2 separate regions of the Homo sapiens genome follow, and region 2 is linked to region 1. The links come from fine-mapping of genetic effects on gene expression. Tissue or cell type: testis. Region 1 holds a variant in brackets; the other region holds the start of a gene. All regions are shown on one strand. Distances are between the middles of the regions.

Region 1 (8,103 bases):
GAGGAAAATAACATCATCTTAGAAATCAATTTATTTCTACGACTGTTGAATACATTGTCTAGTATATGGTGAAAAATAACCAGGCAACAGAGGGACAAGACAATACCAAGAACAGACCTACGGCAGATACAAACATTAGAGCTATCAGACACAGACATTAAAATAACTGTGCCTAGTGCATTCATAGAAATAAAAGACATGAATTAGAACTTTGGCATAGAACTGGGAACTAAACAAAATCCAAATGGACATTCTAGAATGAAAGATAAAGTTTCTGAAATGAAGAATTCATTGGTTGGGCTCAATAGCAAATTAGACACAACAGAAGAAAATATTAGAGACTTGGAACATAGGACAGAAGAAAATATCCAGAGTGATTCCCGGAGACACACAAAAAAAGACGAAAAGTGAAGAAGAGAGGGAAAGGGACATAGAGGAGGTAAGAAGGTCTAACGTGTTGTTGGAATCTCAGGTCAGGAGAGAGAGAAAACGAGTCACAAACAACATCCCAAGAGATAATGGCCATCACTTCCCCAGAGTAGCAAAAGACATCAAGCCGTAGATTCAAGAAGCTCCAAAAACCCCAAGCAAGGAAAATAAAAAGAAATCCATACTCAATATTGCTGAAAAATCACAGATAGAGAAAATCTTAAAATCGGCTGGAGGAAGAAAAATCAAGATAAACAAAAACAGTGGAAACTGGAAGACCTGGCATCTTTTAAAATTCCAAACGAAAAGAACTACCAGTCTGGAGTTCTAAGCCCAGTGAAAGATACATCAAAAGGCAAGGTGAGAAAAGAGTTTCTTAACAAAGCTGAATTAGCAGTAGACCTTCACTGTAGGAAATATTAAAAAGGGTATTTTGGGGGAAGAAAGAAAACAGTCACAGATGGAAGGTCAGAAATATAGGGAGGCATGAATTTTAAAAATAGGTAAATAGGTAGGTTAAAGTGAATATTGGCTGTATGAAACAATACTGATGTTTTATGGATGCGTGTGTATGTGTACTCACACGTTTAAAATATACAGTAACAATAGTATGTAAGAATATAAGTCAGGAAGGGAATAGAGTTCGTATTCTAAGGTTCTTGCATTGTATGGGAAAAAAGGTAAGAATATCAATTAATGTTAGACGTCAAGTCATGGATACTTGTTGTAATCCAGGGTGGCCACTTAAAGAATCATAAAAGTGTGTGTAATGTCCAAGTCAATAGAGAAGAGCAAATGTAGTTTAAAAATTACAAAATCTAAAGGAAACCAAGAAAGAAGAGAGAACAAAGAGACAAATATAGAAAATGCCTATTATTTTAGAAGCATAAACTCAAATCAGAATAACATTAAATGAAAAAGGACCTTACATGCCAATTAAAAGACAAAAGATTGTCAGATTAGCGAAAAAACAAAAACTGGGTGGGAATGGGGTAGAAGGAATAGGAGAGGGGGAGTGAAACTTATCTGCATTTACCATTTTTGTGTAACTCTGACTTTTGAAACCATGTTAATGTTTCTTATACATCCCCTTAGTCAACAGGGATGGGGCGGGGGCCTTAAGTCGAATACAAACAGAAACATGAACTTAACTGTATTTCAAATAAATAATATAATCATATTAACGGCATGAAGCCTAAATAACTTTTGAACACAGTATGTTGACTCTTTACCTCTGGCTAAAGACAAAAAGAACTGTAAACACATAACTGGATTCTAGTTTGTAGGTTTCTTTTATACAGTGACATGGGTTAACAGTTGAAAACTATTTTCTCTATATTTTAGGATTGGTCAAATAAGTAAGTACATTGTGAATAATGGGAGCAAGGTTTCTAGGGGAAGGCTGGGATGAATATATGGTTTTTTATAGACGTAGAAATAGATACAGGGTGTTTCTTAGTTTGTCTGCTGAGAAGGCCCAGAAGCAGAGGTGCCAGTAGCAGTGAGCACACCCAGTACCCACATCTTGGTTTCTAAATACCGTTCTCCATGAAGAGGCACCAGATGAAGAGGCACGAGGGCTTCTTGGAAGAATGGCTGACTATAAGCCTGGGGCTGGAAAAATGTAAGATAAGCCTCAGACATACTGTGCTAGAAAGGAAGTGCTCAAAGAAAGATGGGGACATGTCGAGAGTTCACAGGAGTTCCCAAGAGGCACCTACGGGCCAAATCCAGGACATTTTCAAGCATCGAAATATGTAATAATAGTAATGGATTACAAACTATACAATAAAATAAAAATCTATAAGGCCAAACTGATAGGAATGAATACATAAGTAAAAGACAAGGGAAAGCTTTCATTACAGTAGAATGCCAGCTATTAAATGGAGAAGAAGTGATGGAAGTAGAAAATCCGTGTTTGGCAACCCTGTAATAATTGATTTAGGCGAATTTCATGAGAAACAGGAGTTTACATAGTCTCAAAGTATCTCCCTCCACTATACCTATTAATTACAAAGGGGAAAACAGTAACTTTACAAGGGAGAAACCTGGCAGACATCACCGTAACCCAGTGATGCAAAATTAACTGACATCATTAATGGATATCAAATAGATATCATGGTGCACTGAAGGGACACACTATCCTTCTGTGGCATCTCTTTCAAAACCGTATGTCCTGAATCTGATCATAAGGAAAAAACCCAAATTGAGGGATATTCTCCCCACCCCCCCAAAAAAAGGCTTTTATTCTTTAAAAAATGTTAAGGTCATGAGAGGCAAAGAAAGACTGAAGGACTATTAGATTACAGTAGACTAAAGAGCTGTGACAACAAAATGCGACATGGAATCCCAGACTGGAACCTTGGACTAGCAAAAAATTTCTTTTGAAGGAAATTATTTGGATGGTTGGCAAAATTTGAATAAGGCCTGTAGATAGATAGGCCTGTAGAATAGATACTAGTTTTGTATCAATGTTAATTTTATAATTGTTATAATTGTACCATAGTTATTTAAGAGAATGTCCTTGTTTGTAGGGCTACTTGGGAGATACGAAGCTTGCGCCGTTCAGAAAATGAAGGTGTGTGTGTGTGTGTGTGTGTGTGTGTGTGTACAGAGGAGCACCCGTGCAGAGTCCCCTAGTGTCCTCCCCCGTCTCCTACAGAGAAGGCACACCCCTTCCTCCGTCGGCCGGTCAGGCAGCTGTTAGAGGTGGGGCTAGGTTGCAGCTGGTTAGTTTCTGGTCGCCTCTGGTTTCAAACACATTGAGGATGAAGTCCATCCTGTGTATGTTTTAGGCCTGTCCCTCTAGCAGGACTTTGGGATCTAAGCACCACCATCCTTCTGTCTAGGAGAGCAGGGCCTCTCACCTTGTTTTTCTTCTTCAAAAGTATCTTGGCCGGGCACAGTGGCTCATGCCTGTAAT[C/A]CCAGCACTTTGGGAGGCCAAGGCAGGCGGATCACGAGGTCAGGAGATTGAGACCATCCTGGCTAACATGGTGAAACCCCATCTCTACTAAAAAAATACAAAAAATTAGCCAGGCGTGGTGGCGGGCTCCTGTAGTCCCAGCTACTCAGGAGGCTGAGGCAGGAGAATGGTGTGAACCCGGGAGGCGGAGCTTGCAGTGAGCCGAGATGGTGCCACTGCACTCCAGCCTGGGCAACAGAGCGAGACTCCGTCTCAAAAAAAAAAAAAAAAGTATCTTGGCTGTTCTTGGCCTTCTGAATTTCCATTTAGATTTCAGAATTGACTTGTTAATTTCCACAGCTGAGTAAAAGAATGGCTCCCATATATGGCTGTACATACCTTTATTTTATTTTATTTATTTTGAGACGGAATCTCACTCTGTTGCCCAGGCTGGAGTGCAGTGGTGTGATCTCTGCTCACTGCAATCTCCACCTCCCAGGTTCAAGCGATTCTCCTGCCTCAGCCTCCTGAGTAACAGGGTTTATAGGTGTGCATGCCACCACGCCCGGCTAATTTTATGTATTTTTAGTAGAGACCGGGTTTCACCATGTTGGCCAGGCTGGTCTCAAACTCCTGACCTCAGGTGATCTGTCCATCTTGGCCTCCCAAAGTGCTGGGATGACAGGTGTGAGCCACCGCGCCTGGCCTTGTACATACCTTTAGTTGTGTTGTTTGTCTTCCAGCTTTTCAGAAGAGCTGGTAGATGAAGCTCTGGGTGCTGTGGCTGCTGAACTTCAGGATATGTGCGAAGATTATGCAGAAGCTGTGTTCACCTCAGAATTCTTAGAGGCTGCTACATAAAGGCTCTCTGAGGCGAGGCCATTTGTGTCACACTGGAGAAGGGATGGCACCACCCTTTGTTTTGGCCCACAGGAAATTTTCATCCTCAGCTGTCCATCCAGGCCCAGAAGGTGCTGCCCACTGAAAGGAAGGCAGTGCCGGGGAGGTCATCCTCACTTTGCATTTTCTTTTGTCATGGCAATGGTTCTGGAAATGTATGATGCAATGTATCACACTTATCAGTGCCCAGGCAACACAACTTGATTATGGCAATATTTTCAGAATGTGTACTTTTCCTATTGAAATACCATGTTCATTCCTCTGGCTCAGTTTGGTGATGAAAATGTTTTGAAAGATAATCGATACGTATATTTCACACAAGGATTCAGGTTGCTGTTGAACCCTTGCTGGCATTGATACCAACACAAGTGCGGCTACTAGCTGGTCCCATCACGGGGCCCCTGTTTTGCATCTTTGGCGATTTCCTGTCAGGACCTCTGGCCCTACTAGGCTGTAGACTCAGGGAGAGCACAGTCTGGCTGTGCTGCCAAACCTCTCCTCTGCTGCAGTTTATTCCAAACAGGAGCCCCCTGGCTGTCAGTGCACAATAATAGACACACATTTCTTCAACGTTCCATTCCTAGGTGATTTTCACATTTTTAGTTCCTCAGCATATTTTATTGCTGTGTGTTGACACAATCTGGTATAAAAAACTTTCTCTGGATTCAGAGGAAGTTTGAGGAATCAGGAGAGGACCAGGCCTTCTCCTGTGCCTGGGTGAAGGTACAGACCTCGCTGTGTCTCCGATGAGGTCAGAAGTGTCTCTATTTCATACCACAAAGGAACCCAAGTGGGAGTAGGGAACAGATGGATGGCGCGAAGACCTCTGTGTCTCCCCAGAGAAAGGAAGAAACTTAAGAACCATCATAGCCTGGTCCTCCAACATCTTACAGATCATGTTTTCCAAGAGAAAAGCCTGTGTTTTCAGAAACTCTGAATTCAGAAAAAGAAACGGAATGTGCGTAAGAATCAGGCCACTGCCTGGAAAGACTTTCTCTCAATTCGTAGCCTGAGGCTCAGTGAAGGAAACATGCAGAAAGAATGCCTGAGACGCCCCCAGGGAATAAGGGAACTCTTTATAACCTGTCCAGTGCCGTCATCTGGGATTTTTCTCTGAAGTACAAGAATTTCAGGTGATTTAAGCTGCTTGATCACACTTATTTGTGCAAAATTGATTTTCATTTAATGTTAATGTTTTCCTGCTTAATTTTATATAACTTCAGAATGTAAAGAGCTTCAAGGTAAATTACAGGGTGTTTAACCTGGGGAGTTAAATGTGTACACTTGAATTAATAGGAGCACCGGTTGTTGCTAGTATAAAGTAATTTGTGTGGCAGTTTGTACTGTGCTGAGTTTTTAAAATAAACCCAATATTTTAAAGTATGTGCCTATTTTAAATAACTTACATCTCCTTTTTTTCCCACAGGCAAAGTGAAATGTGATTTACAGAAACCACTGAGAATACTTTTATATGTGATATGACTATAGTGGATTATTTGCCACCCCTTCCCCCCGAGAAAAAAATTAGTGACAATAAAAGCTAACATTTATTGAGCACCTACTAGAGCATTGCTCTCCGTGCTTGCCATGTAGTAACTTATTTAATCCTCACCTCATCTCTGTGAGGTGGAGAGCATCATTGTTCCCATTGTATAGATGAATAAAACGAGGCACAGGAGGAGATAATTTGACCAAACAAACTTGGAGTTTACCTGAGCTCATCTTCCTGCCTTTCCCTATCCCCACTCGGCGTGTGCTGGGGCAGTCCCATTCTCACACTTCCTGTTGCAGCTTGTGTCCTGAAAGGCCGAGCCCAGGCTTTGCCTTGTTTCAGGATCTTCCCACTCTCTCCTGCTCCTCCCACCAGGTGGATCTGCCTTTCTCTGACTCATGTGGGTGGAGCTTCAACCAGCCCCAGTGTCCAGGTGTCAACTTTATATCCCTGGCCCATCGCAAACATCCACAGCCAGAGCATTCTCCAAAGACACAAAAATATACTGCAAGAAATAAACATTTTTCTTTGCAAATGGAAGCTAAATCCTTAGAATATAAAAGTTCCCGTTTATCGCCTCGCAGCCAGCCCAGACATCTAGAATTTTTTGTTCTTCATGAACAAGGGCTGACCGTACATCATTCTGTAATTCCCTTCAGCTTTCTCACGAACTATTCGTGTACTATTTCAGAAGCAGAAACACACGAGTTCAGTGTTTTTGTGTTGCATACGCCGTCCCCAGTGTACAGAGACATGAAAATGCACTCCGAGCGCTCCACCGGCACAGCTTGGTCACACGGGATTTCTGTCTGTTTCTGTGCTTACCTCTAGTCTGTTTAGCTCCTTGAGGGCAGGGACCCTGCCTAGCTTGTAGTTGGTGCTCAGTAAATTCTTCTGAATTAATGAAAGGTGAAGGGCAGGCTGATTGACTTTATACGGGGGGGTCTGTCACATCTCATATAGTCCACAGAAATCTATGATGTCCTTTTGTGACCCCGAGATAGAATGCCATTTGAGAACTATAATTCCATCTTGGAGGTACTGCTGCCATTGCAATTCCAGCTCAGATGGCAAGAACTTGCTTCCTTCCTCCTAGAGCAGGGCATGGGCCTCAGCCTCATGCTGCTCCTGACCTTGAGCGAGCCTTGGTCAGGGTGCTCCTGGGGACTAAGCTGGGGCGGCCCAGGGACTGGAGAAGAAGACAGAAGGATGTGCATGGGAGCCCCTTGCCTCTTGTGTTCTGTTACTATTTCAGCACTGTGGTCCCTTCTCCCTCTGCCCGCCGGAGCTGGGGTTTGGAGGAGAGATGGTGAGGAGAGAAGCGCTTTCCTCACTCCACTTCCTCCCTGGGCTCACGGTTCCTGCTTTCCTGAAGGTGGTCCGAGTGTGTTTGTGTGTGTGTGTGTTGGGGGAGTGGGGGAGGTGGAGGCATGAACTGCACTGTGGCCAGTGGGTCTGAAAGGCAGAAGGAAGGGCCTGAGGGAAGCCCCAGGGCCAACAGCAAGAGGAAGGGTCCAAGTCAGAAAGTCCCCTGTGCTCTCTGTGACAGTGTAGGTTTCCATCACGCTTCTGTGTTTCTGAGAGGAGCTCTCTTTATTTTAGCAACGTGAGACAGTAGTGAGAATTCCCTGCAGAGCCTGTAAATTCAGGGGTGTCCACATCATCATGGGCTTATGATCACCACAGAAGTGACCTTTGGGAGGGGCCAGCCTGTGAAAGGGCTCCTGGTTCTCTGGGCTCTTGAAGAGCAGCAGAAGGGCAGTGGCCTTGCCCCACTGAGCTCCATTAGTTCAGGAGCCGAGATCTCAGATCTGTTTCCACACTGGCATGTTGACTGAGTCCAATAACGTGGGCCTGGATTGGAGGGGCTTCCACCTGACATCCTGTGTACTTCCTATCAGTCCTCAGTAAGGGCCCCAGGAAATCCCAGATAGGGACCCTGGGCTGGTTGTCAGGCCCAAGTGAACTCAGGCAACAGACCCAGCAGGATCATTCCCCGACCTGGAGTGCACAGCTGGCTTCCGGAGTCAGGGCTCCCCTCCCGGTTCAGCTCCAGTGCTGGGTTCCCCTCTTGCCAGCCTGTCCAGGACCTTGCTCCACCTTCCCCAGTCTTCTCCCCAAGCCTGCACCTGCCTTCCCAGATGACCCCTTTATCCTTTATTTGCTGCTTTCCCTAGAGTCCCCTTGGCTGTTCTTGACCTCATATACCTGGAAATCCTTTCCTTGAACCAGACCTGCAGGCTTTTACTATTTTCCCTGGCTCGCTTTCCATCCATCCAACTGGACTTCTGCCTGTGGCCTGGAGTTAGGTCCATCCGTTCCCACCACTAAGGCTGCCTTCCAGCCCCCCACCTTGTCACAGCTGGCTACTCCCCTTGAG
Region 2 (8,100 bases), 60 kb before region 1:
TCCAACTTTTTATTGTTAATAGACTATTTCTGTTAAACCTGAATTGTTCTTTGATTTCCCTGTGGATTTGTAAGGTGTTTTTCTTTTTTACGCATTTAGCATAATCAGCTGATTAAGAATGGAAAAGTTAGGTGCTTTAGACCAAATAAGGCACTGGGGCATGGGGTAGGGGTGGGCCACCAAGTATACTGAATTCTAAGGCTAGCTGTTCCTGACATATAGTAGGGCAAGACCATCTCCTGGAACCTTACTGTCTCAGATCAACTACTCTACCACTCTACTCTAAGATGTAGTGAGAGTAGCGGAGTCACTGACCTCTTTAAATCATAGGACAGGAACTGCATAAAGGTTCTTGAATTCTGCAGGACAGGAAATAACTGTATTACCTGCTTTGCAAGGTGGCTTTAAGAATCACTGAATCACTGTGGCCTCACTTGACCTAGTCATGGCAGGACAACTAGTGGTTAGTTACTAACTGGACTCTTGACTTTAGAACAAACATGAGGAGCCTCAAATACTTGTGTTCATTTGGGAAAGCTACCATTGATTTGGGAGGTACCACAAACCAGGTGCTATGTTAAGTGCTTCCTTGAATTCTCATTTTATTCTAAGAACCTTGTTTATAGAAGAGAAAACTGAGGTTTGGACGGGGTGAGTAACTTGCCTGTGGTTACACAGCTAGTAAGTGGTAGAGTCAGTGTGACTGACTCCCAGCTTGGAGTTCTTCCCAGAACTGGGTTATAGAGTCTTTCCGGCCGCTCTCCGCCACCTGCCTCATCCCAAGTAAAGCACATTGAGACAGCTGCAAAACAAACTGCTTCTAGTGCTCAGGAGTCTGTTTTTTATTAAACAAAACAAAACTGCCTGAATTAAGCAGAGGCTAGATTAGAGGTCATGTGCTTTCCTTCAGTGGTGAGGTTAGGTTCTACATTCCAAAATCAAAGAAGGGGTTTCAGGAATATCATCAGTTGCTTTGCAGATGGAGATAACTTAAAATAAAAGATACTGATCTTTTGAGAGATTTGGAAGGTGTGCTCTGCACCTTTAGGAGTTTTTAGGTATTTCCGTCACCTTCAAGAATACGTTCCTTTGAGCCTTTACTGCTATTTCTGAAGACTTCTTTATATCTTAAAAATATCCATGTATTACAGGCAAACTAAAGGTTCATGGGCATTTTAATAGCACTCTATTGTTTAGACACATGCCAGTTTTTTTAACATCATTTATTGCTAACATGAATTCAAAGCAAGTATACAGTTTATTGATACTAGAACAAATCAGGACATCAAGACATGATTGCCATCCTAAAATCTTAATCTTCAGAGAACAACATTTCCACCAGGTTGGCCTGAAGACACTCAGATTCTACCAGTTTTTGAGGCTGTAAGAGAAAAACAGTCAAATCTTCACTACTTCTATAAAACGTTATTAGGAGTGGAATGAGTTCTGCCTTGAATGACACTCATCTTTGAACACAGAAATTACGCAATTCAGAAACTATCATCTAGTTATAACAAGTTTTATGAAAGAATCAATATATTTGCTGTAAGATGAATCACTAACATACTTGGCTCAAGAGACTTAAACCCCAAATACCAGGAAGCTCCACAGACTAAAACAGGAGACAGCAAGCCCAGTGCCCTCTTCTTCCCCTCAACTCTTTAATTTAGGATCCCAGGGGCATGACTGAACTAGAAGAGATGCCCTTACTTTTTAACCAGAATTATGAATTAAACAGAAAACAACTGTTGATGCAAATGTTTTAAGGAATTATGAGTCAACCTACTTTCTGGTTTTTTAAGAGTGACTTAACATGAAAAAGACCTAATAGCTAGATATTTACATTATCAGTTTATTGGGATTGGCCATAGGAATGGACTTTCAGCAGCACTCTGAACAACAATGGAATTGAGATGAAATGTCAAGATCTTTTCAAATCTGGATCCACAGCAAGTTAAAAGAGTTCTGACAGTGAATTACAGGCCCAGCATATTTAAAGATACTTACTGTTCCATACTTAAGTAGTGTAGGCACTGCTGTTACTTTCAAGTTTTTTCTGAAGTCATTATTTGGATCTTTCCAACTATTCGAAAAGAAAAAGTGATCATGAAAAAAATTTACTTGGTTTATTACAGTTTGCTTAATATTTGACATAGTCCTACATTTAATTTTTTAGTAATCACTGTTCTTGCAAACACTTAAAAAACCTTGCGGACTATGGCTTAATCTACTAATTACCCTGTGCAAAGTTTCAAAGTGTGACTAAGATATAAAAGTAAAGCCAGCTAAGTTCTGGGCTTACACCAGACCAAATTCGTTGAATTACCCTTACTTAATTCAGGTGGGCATTTTAAATTTGTATTTAATAGCTTCTAATTGTTTAACTTGTCAGACATTACCTTGTAAGACAAACTGGGTAAGTAAGTCCCTGAGGCCCTTCCCGCCTAAGTATGCAATTTGTGCACGTCTGCGAGGTAGATTATACATTGCCACTTACTAAGGCTTTTCTCCTACTTGGCAGTAGATGAACACACATCCTTCACTAATGTGCTTCAGCCCCTCTCGTACGACTGGTTCAGCTTTAAAAAAAGTTGAGATAAAATAATCGCACGTCAACTCTACAATCAGGCACGTATAAACTGTGTTCTTTCCCCCTTCCCCCAGTCTTGGTAAGCACTCAGACTTTAACCTGCAGCTAACTGAAGAGGTCAACACAAGTCAGGTGTTCCCTTCTGGTCTTAGAGCCACGTTAAGGGTAAGGACCAAATCCCAGTCCCGATTTGCCCCTGCACCACCGCGCCCGTAACAATGGAAAGCACATGTATTTGCTGACCAACTCACGTATCCTGTAAGACACTAATGGTACTGGGGGAGTGAGAAGTTTTAAGGAACTAGATTCCAAGATCATCCGGGTAAGGTGGTAAAAGGAAGAGCGCTCTTGGCAGGGCGGGGTAGGATTTAATAGAAGGAGACTTGGGGACAGCTCAGATTGCTCCGCGGATGTCTGGAACCAAGACTCTGCCTCCGCTAAGCCCCCCTTCTGGCCGTAGGCTCGACCTTCCTGCCATTTCCATTGGACAGCAGCCCCCGAATCCCGGCCTCACCCTGCACGCAGTCGGGGCACCAGCTTTTCCCCCCGGCGTCCTTAGAACCCGTAAAGTAGGCGAAAATGGTCTTGCCATTGTGCTGTTCCACGGCCCGGTGGAACTCCTCGAAGCCGGACACGCTCACCTCCTCATAGCGGGCCATTGGCACGACGTGCAGCCGCTACTGGAGGAGTGCACGTCCGGTCGCCGCGGTTGGGTCCCGCGTAGGCGGGGCGAGGCTGTTTCCGGGTGGGCAAGAGAGGGCGGAGCCTGCGGAAGCCAGCGCCGCTAAAGACTACGGGAGCCTCTGACGACCACAATCCATCCGCATGGCTTTTTGCTCTAGTTCCTCAGATCTTTCTGCGCTAGCTGCACTCCCAAGCCCAGGCTTAGATCTACCCTAATCTAGTCCCAGCCCCGACCTCATGGACACTGGCTGCAAAACTTACCGCCTTGCAACACCTGGATCCTTAAATAGTTCAGGGCCTCAAAGGCTCCCAAGCCGCCCTGCGCCTGTTGCTATGGCGACTGGGCAGGCGGCCGGAAGCGCGGCCTTGTTGGGGGCCCCCGTTGCCCGCCTCCCAGTAGCCGCGCCTCACCCTAGGCCAGGTGGGCTCGGGCCGGGGCTGGGGGGGATTCTGGGAAGCCGCATAGAGTCATGGACTTGGGGGAGAGGAGATCTGACTCGGAAAGCCTTTGTTGCTTTGTCCCCCCAGTTACCTTTTCTGCCGTCTAGGCTTTACGGGGGCCTGGGACTGGGGGCGGGTTCCCGAGACTGGGCGGGGGTGGGATGGGTGAGGGGCTCGGAGGGAGAAAGGCTGCAAGGCCGGAGCGGAGTGTGTGAGTGCGTGTGTGGAGCAGCTTAGGGAGCGAGGTGCTAAGACATCCCCCAGGGCCGCGGTAGGGAGGAAGGGAACTGCCCTGGAGCTATGAGCCGGGAGACTCGCCGTGGGGCCTTGCCCAGGCTGCGCCGGGGAGAGCAGGCGGCTAAGATGCCGGGTCGCTGCGTGGGGCCCAGCAGGTCGGGGCGGGGGGTTCGGCGGCCGTGGGGGAAGAGACGGGGCGCAGGGACGTCCCGAGGCCGTGGAGCAAGGCGCCGGGCGAAGCCCTCGGAGTGGGAGACGCGCTGTGTGAGTGCAGAAAGGCCACAGGGCCGTCAGCGGCCATGGGGGACGAGACAAGCGGCGGAGACAGCCGACGCCGCCGGGGCGAATGAGGCTTTGGGAGCTCCTGGGACCCCAGGCTCCATCGAGGCTGCAAGGGACCCTGGGGCTGTGTGGGTGAACGGGGCTGTGGGGGAGCCCGAGGTGGTGGGGCTTGCCGGGGCTGTGTGGGTGACCGGGTCTGGGGAGGAGGAGACCGAAGATAGAAGTCCCCGGGGCTGCGAGAGAAAAGGTCGCCCGGGATCTCTGGGCCATGAGAGCATTCTGCACCTGTGGCTGAAGGTGCAGGCTATGAGGGCCGCCTCGGGATGTGGGGAAGGAAGTAGAGTCGAGCTCCATCCCGTGCCTGCAGGAGAGGGACCTGTCGAAAGGGGTGTTCCTGGCCGAGCTTCCTGGGTAGAGACAAGCCGCGGCGGTCTTACAGGGCCCTGGGTGAAGGAACAGGCAAGGGGGATCCCTCGGGCCCCCTCAGGGCCCACAGCTCTGGGCTTAGGGGCAGCTTACGAGAGAGCCTTAGGCTTCTGTGGACAGGGACAGGCTGGGAGGGTGCCTCCTGCGAGTGTGCCTGGGGCTTTGGCGTCAAGTTCTGAAATGGCCCCGCACCTGTGGAGGGGAGAAGCTGTGGGGGTTCCTGAGACTGGGGAGGAGATAGGCTATGGGTTTGTCTCAGGCCCTTGTGAAAAAGAACAGACTATGGGCGAGCCTGGGACCGTGGGGTGGACTGGGGCTGTGGGAGCGCCCAGAGCCATGGAGGGAGAGCTCGGCTGTGGCGGTGCTGCAGGTCTGTGGGGGAGAGGACAGTCCCCGCAGATTCCTGGGGCTCTGACACATGAAGCAGTCTGTGGGGCCACCCCTGGCGTATGGGGGAGGGGACAGGCTGTGGGGGTGTCCGATGCTGTGGAGGAGGAGCCTACTTCTGTGGGTGCCGCAGGTGTGTGTTACAGGAGACAGGCTGTGGAGGAGACAGACTCTGTGGGTATGCCCGGCCCGTGGGGCACAGGATACTCTGTTGGGGTGCCCTGTGCTGCTGAAGAGGAAACTAGATGTGGAGGTGACCCAGGGTTCAGGGAAAGGGGACAGCCTGTGTGGGTGGAGACAGGCTCTGGGGGTGATCCAGGGTCACGGGGAGCTGCGCAGACTGCAGAGTCATCATGTCCTGGGGAGCAGGCAGCAGGTTCTGGGGGTGCCCCAGGCCTGTGGGGGATACAACAGGCTACAGGGGTACCCAGGGCCTTGGGGAAGGACACGGGCTGTGTGAGTGTCCCAGGGCTGTGGGGAGCGGGACAGATGGTAAGGGTGCCCCAGGCTGTGGTGGTACCTGGAGCCCTGGGAGAAGAGCTGAGCCACAGCGGGGGCCTGGGCCTGTGGGACGGACAGCAAGCTCTTGGGGGGCCCCCAGCCGAGGCAGTGCCTGGGCTTGGAGAGGAGACCTGTAGTGGGAATGTTCTGAGCCCGTGGGAAAGGAGGCAGGCTGTGGGGGAGCCAGAGAGTCTGGGGCCTCCAGCTTTAGGGGTCCCTGGGTCAGTGGATCAGGAGGCTGGCTGTGGAGATGTTGCATGTCAGTGTGGGAGGAGGCAGGCTGTGGGGGTGTCTGAGACGGTGGGCATACCCAGGGCAGCAGATGTGCCCCGGCAGGGGTGTGCCGCAGCAGGGGTCCTCATGGCAATGGGTGTGCCCGGCTCTGGAAAGGTGCCTGCCAGAGTGCCTGCTGCTGTGTGGGCGTCTGGTCCTGTGTGTCAGGAAGGCAGCTCTAGAGACATTTTGAACCTGTGGGAAAGGACTCGGGCTGCCAGAATATCTGTGGCTTCGGGGGGACCCGTGGCTCGGGAGGAGCTGTGGTCTGGCGGGGAGGAATCCGTGGCTTCAGGGGGACCCGTGGCTCAGGAGGAGCTGTGGTCAGGCGGGGAGGAATCCGTGGCTTCAGGGGGACACGTGGCTCGGGAGAAGCTGTGGTCTGGCGGGGAGGATTGTGGTTCTGGGGCCTTCCCGGGCCCATGGGGGAGGAGACAGACTATTGGGGTTCCTGTGGTGCCTGAGGGGCCTGGGCTTGGGGGGGAGACTGACTCTGGGGGTATCCCAAGACCCTGGGGACAGAGACAGAGGGTCAGGGCTCCTGTGGCCACCGAAGTCCTTCTGGCTCCTAGGGTGCCTGGTTCTGTGGAGCTGGAGCCTGGTGATGGAGGCTTTTCAGGCTTGTCAGGGAGGCAGCAAACTGCAGGAATGCCTGGCACTGTGGGGCTGTCTGCAGCTAGTGGGGTGCCCGTGGCTCCCAGGGTGCCTAGGCCTGTGCAAGAGGAAACTGGCTCAGAATTGTGGGGTGAAAGAGAGACAGTGGGCGGACCTGCAGATGCCAAGGGTCCCACAAGGATGGAGGTGCCCACCTCGACCAGGATGCCTGGGCCCATGGCGGAGAAGACTGGCTCTGGGGGTGTCTCAGGTTTGTTGGGAGGCAGACAGACTACAGGAGTGTCCATGGCTGTGGGGCTGCTGGGGTCTGTGGGGGAGGGGACCATCTTTGAGCATGTCTCTGGCCTGTCTGGAAGAAGGCAGACTGCTGGGAGGCCTGTGGCTGCTAGAGGTTCCATGGCCGTGGGAGTGCCCACAGCTCCCGGGCTTCCAGGGCCAATGGTAGGGGATACGGGCTCTGGGGATGACGGCTCAGGCATATGGGGAAGGAGACTGGCCACTGAGGGGCCCACAGCTGCCAGGGTTCCTGGACCTGTGGAGGGGGAGACAGGCTCTGAAGGTGTCTCAGGCCTGTGGAGAAGGAGACACGGTGGAGCCATTCCCGAGGCCGGGAGGGTGCCTCTGCCTCTGGGGGTGCTTGCAGCTGTAGGAGCTCCCATGGCAGGGCGTGCGCCTGCTGCGGTGTGGGTGACTGGGTCCTCAGGAGCAGAAGCGGACGTGGGTGTCTCAGGTCTGACCGTGCTGAGGAGACAGTCCACAGGGGGAGTGGGGGCTTCAGAGGATGAGACAGGAGGTGGGAATATTTTGGGACTGGCCGGGGGCAGCCAGGCTGTGGGGACATCTCACACCTGTGTGCCTGGGGCCAGGTTATGGAGCTGTCCAAGGTCTTTGGGGGAAGAAACAGCCTATGAGAATGCTCTAGGCATGTCAGGGACAAGAACAGCTGTGGGGGTACCCTCAGTTTCAAGGGAGGAAATAGGCCTTGGCCATTTCAGAGACCACCTACAGCCAAGTGGGAGGAGGCTGGCTGGAGGAGTGTCTGCAGTCAGAGTGAGAGGGAGCAATTTGGGAGAGAGTTATGTGGGGGAGGCTAGATTGAGGGGGGCGTTCCAGTAGTGTGTGTAGGGAAGAAGTTGGGGCTGTGTGGGAGGGAACAGGTTCGGGGTAGGTTTGTCATGGGTTGCGGATGAAGGCACTGGCTGTAAGGGCATCTCAGCATGGGGGAGAGAGGGTTTTCGTGGAGATGCCCCAGGGTATGTAGAGGGACAAATTGGGACGTTTCCTGGAGCAGTGGGAAAGGGCCAGATTGCAAGGAGAGTCCCAGAACTTTGTACAGGGGGACAGTTTAGGGGTGGGTGTCCCTGGACTTTGTGCGTGTGTGTGTATGTGTGTGTGTAGCATCACTTGAGGCATGCTGGAACTGTGGGGATCACCTAGTTTTTTTCTAGTGGAGAATGGACTATTTGGCCCTTGGCACCTAGAAGCAGCCAGGAGGGAAGTACTGACCATTTAAAAGTGGCAGATCTCCGGGCCCCATTTCTGCAGCCTTCATTCTGCAACTCCAGCCACCCACCTGTGCCAACGTCAAGCCAGTTGGGATTGCCTTGCTCATGTGCCTCCTCCCATCTGCTTTTTTCATGTGTGCTACAGCCTTAGAAATAAGG

Which allele goes with the higher level. Positions count from the first base shown, and alleles are read on the strand shown. Sizes are in standard deviations (SD) of each study's normalised expression.
With allele C in place of A in region 1, the expression in testis of the gene that starts at base 3,621 in region 2 is lower (small effect, 0.33 SD a copy in GTEx).

What was found. PIP is the estimated chance that this variant, and not a neighbour inherited with it, causes the effect.
Region 2: it holds the start of KIAA0753, and the variant in region 1 is fine-mapped to the expression of KIAA0753 in testis (GTEx, PIP 0.99).

What each region holds. Positions count from the first base shown.
Region 1 is chr17:6,575,836-6,583,938 of GRCh38, reverse strand. KIAA0753 reads left to right here. Exons shown (of 19, transcript NM_014804.3): 19 at 4,075-5,792. The coding sequence ends at 4,192. Among named protein-coding and RNA genes, the nearest start is that of PITPNM3, 23 kb to the right of the region's middle. The variant C/A (reference allele first, on the strand shown) is at 3,353.
Region 2 is chr17:6,636,232-6,644,331 of GRCh38, reverse strand. KIAA0753 reads left to right here and starts at 3,621. Exons shown (of 19, transcript NM_014804.3): 1 at 3,621-3,695. It overlaps TXNDC17 (thioredoxin domain containing 17), which reads right to left and starts at 3,272. Exons shown (of 4, transcript NM_032731.4): 1 at 3,105-3,272; 2 at 2,498-2,579; 3 at 2,008-2,083; 4 at 1-1,381. The coding sequence starts at 3,249. The coding sequence ends at 1,313. MED31 (mediator complex subunit 31) reads left to right here. Exons shown (of 4, transcript NM_016060.3): 4 at 1-1,021. It overlaps LOC122526780, which reads left to right and starts at 4,016. Exons shown (of 1, transcript NM_001396008.1): 1 at 4,016-7,552. The coding sequence starts at 4,016. The coding sequence ends at 7,552. RefSeq lists enhancers at 2,553-2,612, 2,813-3,082, 3,213-4,094, 4,993-5,062, 6,007-6,788 and 1 more.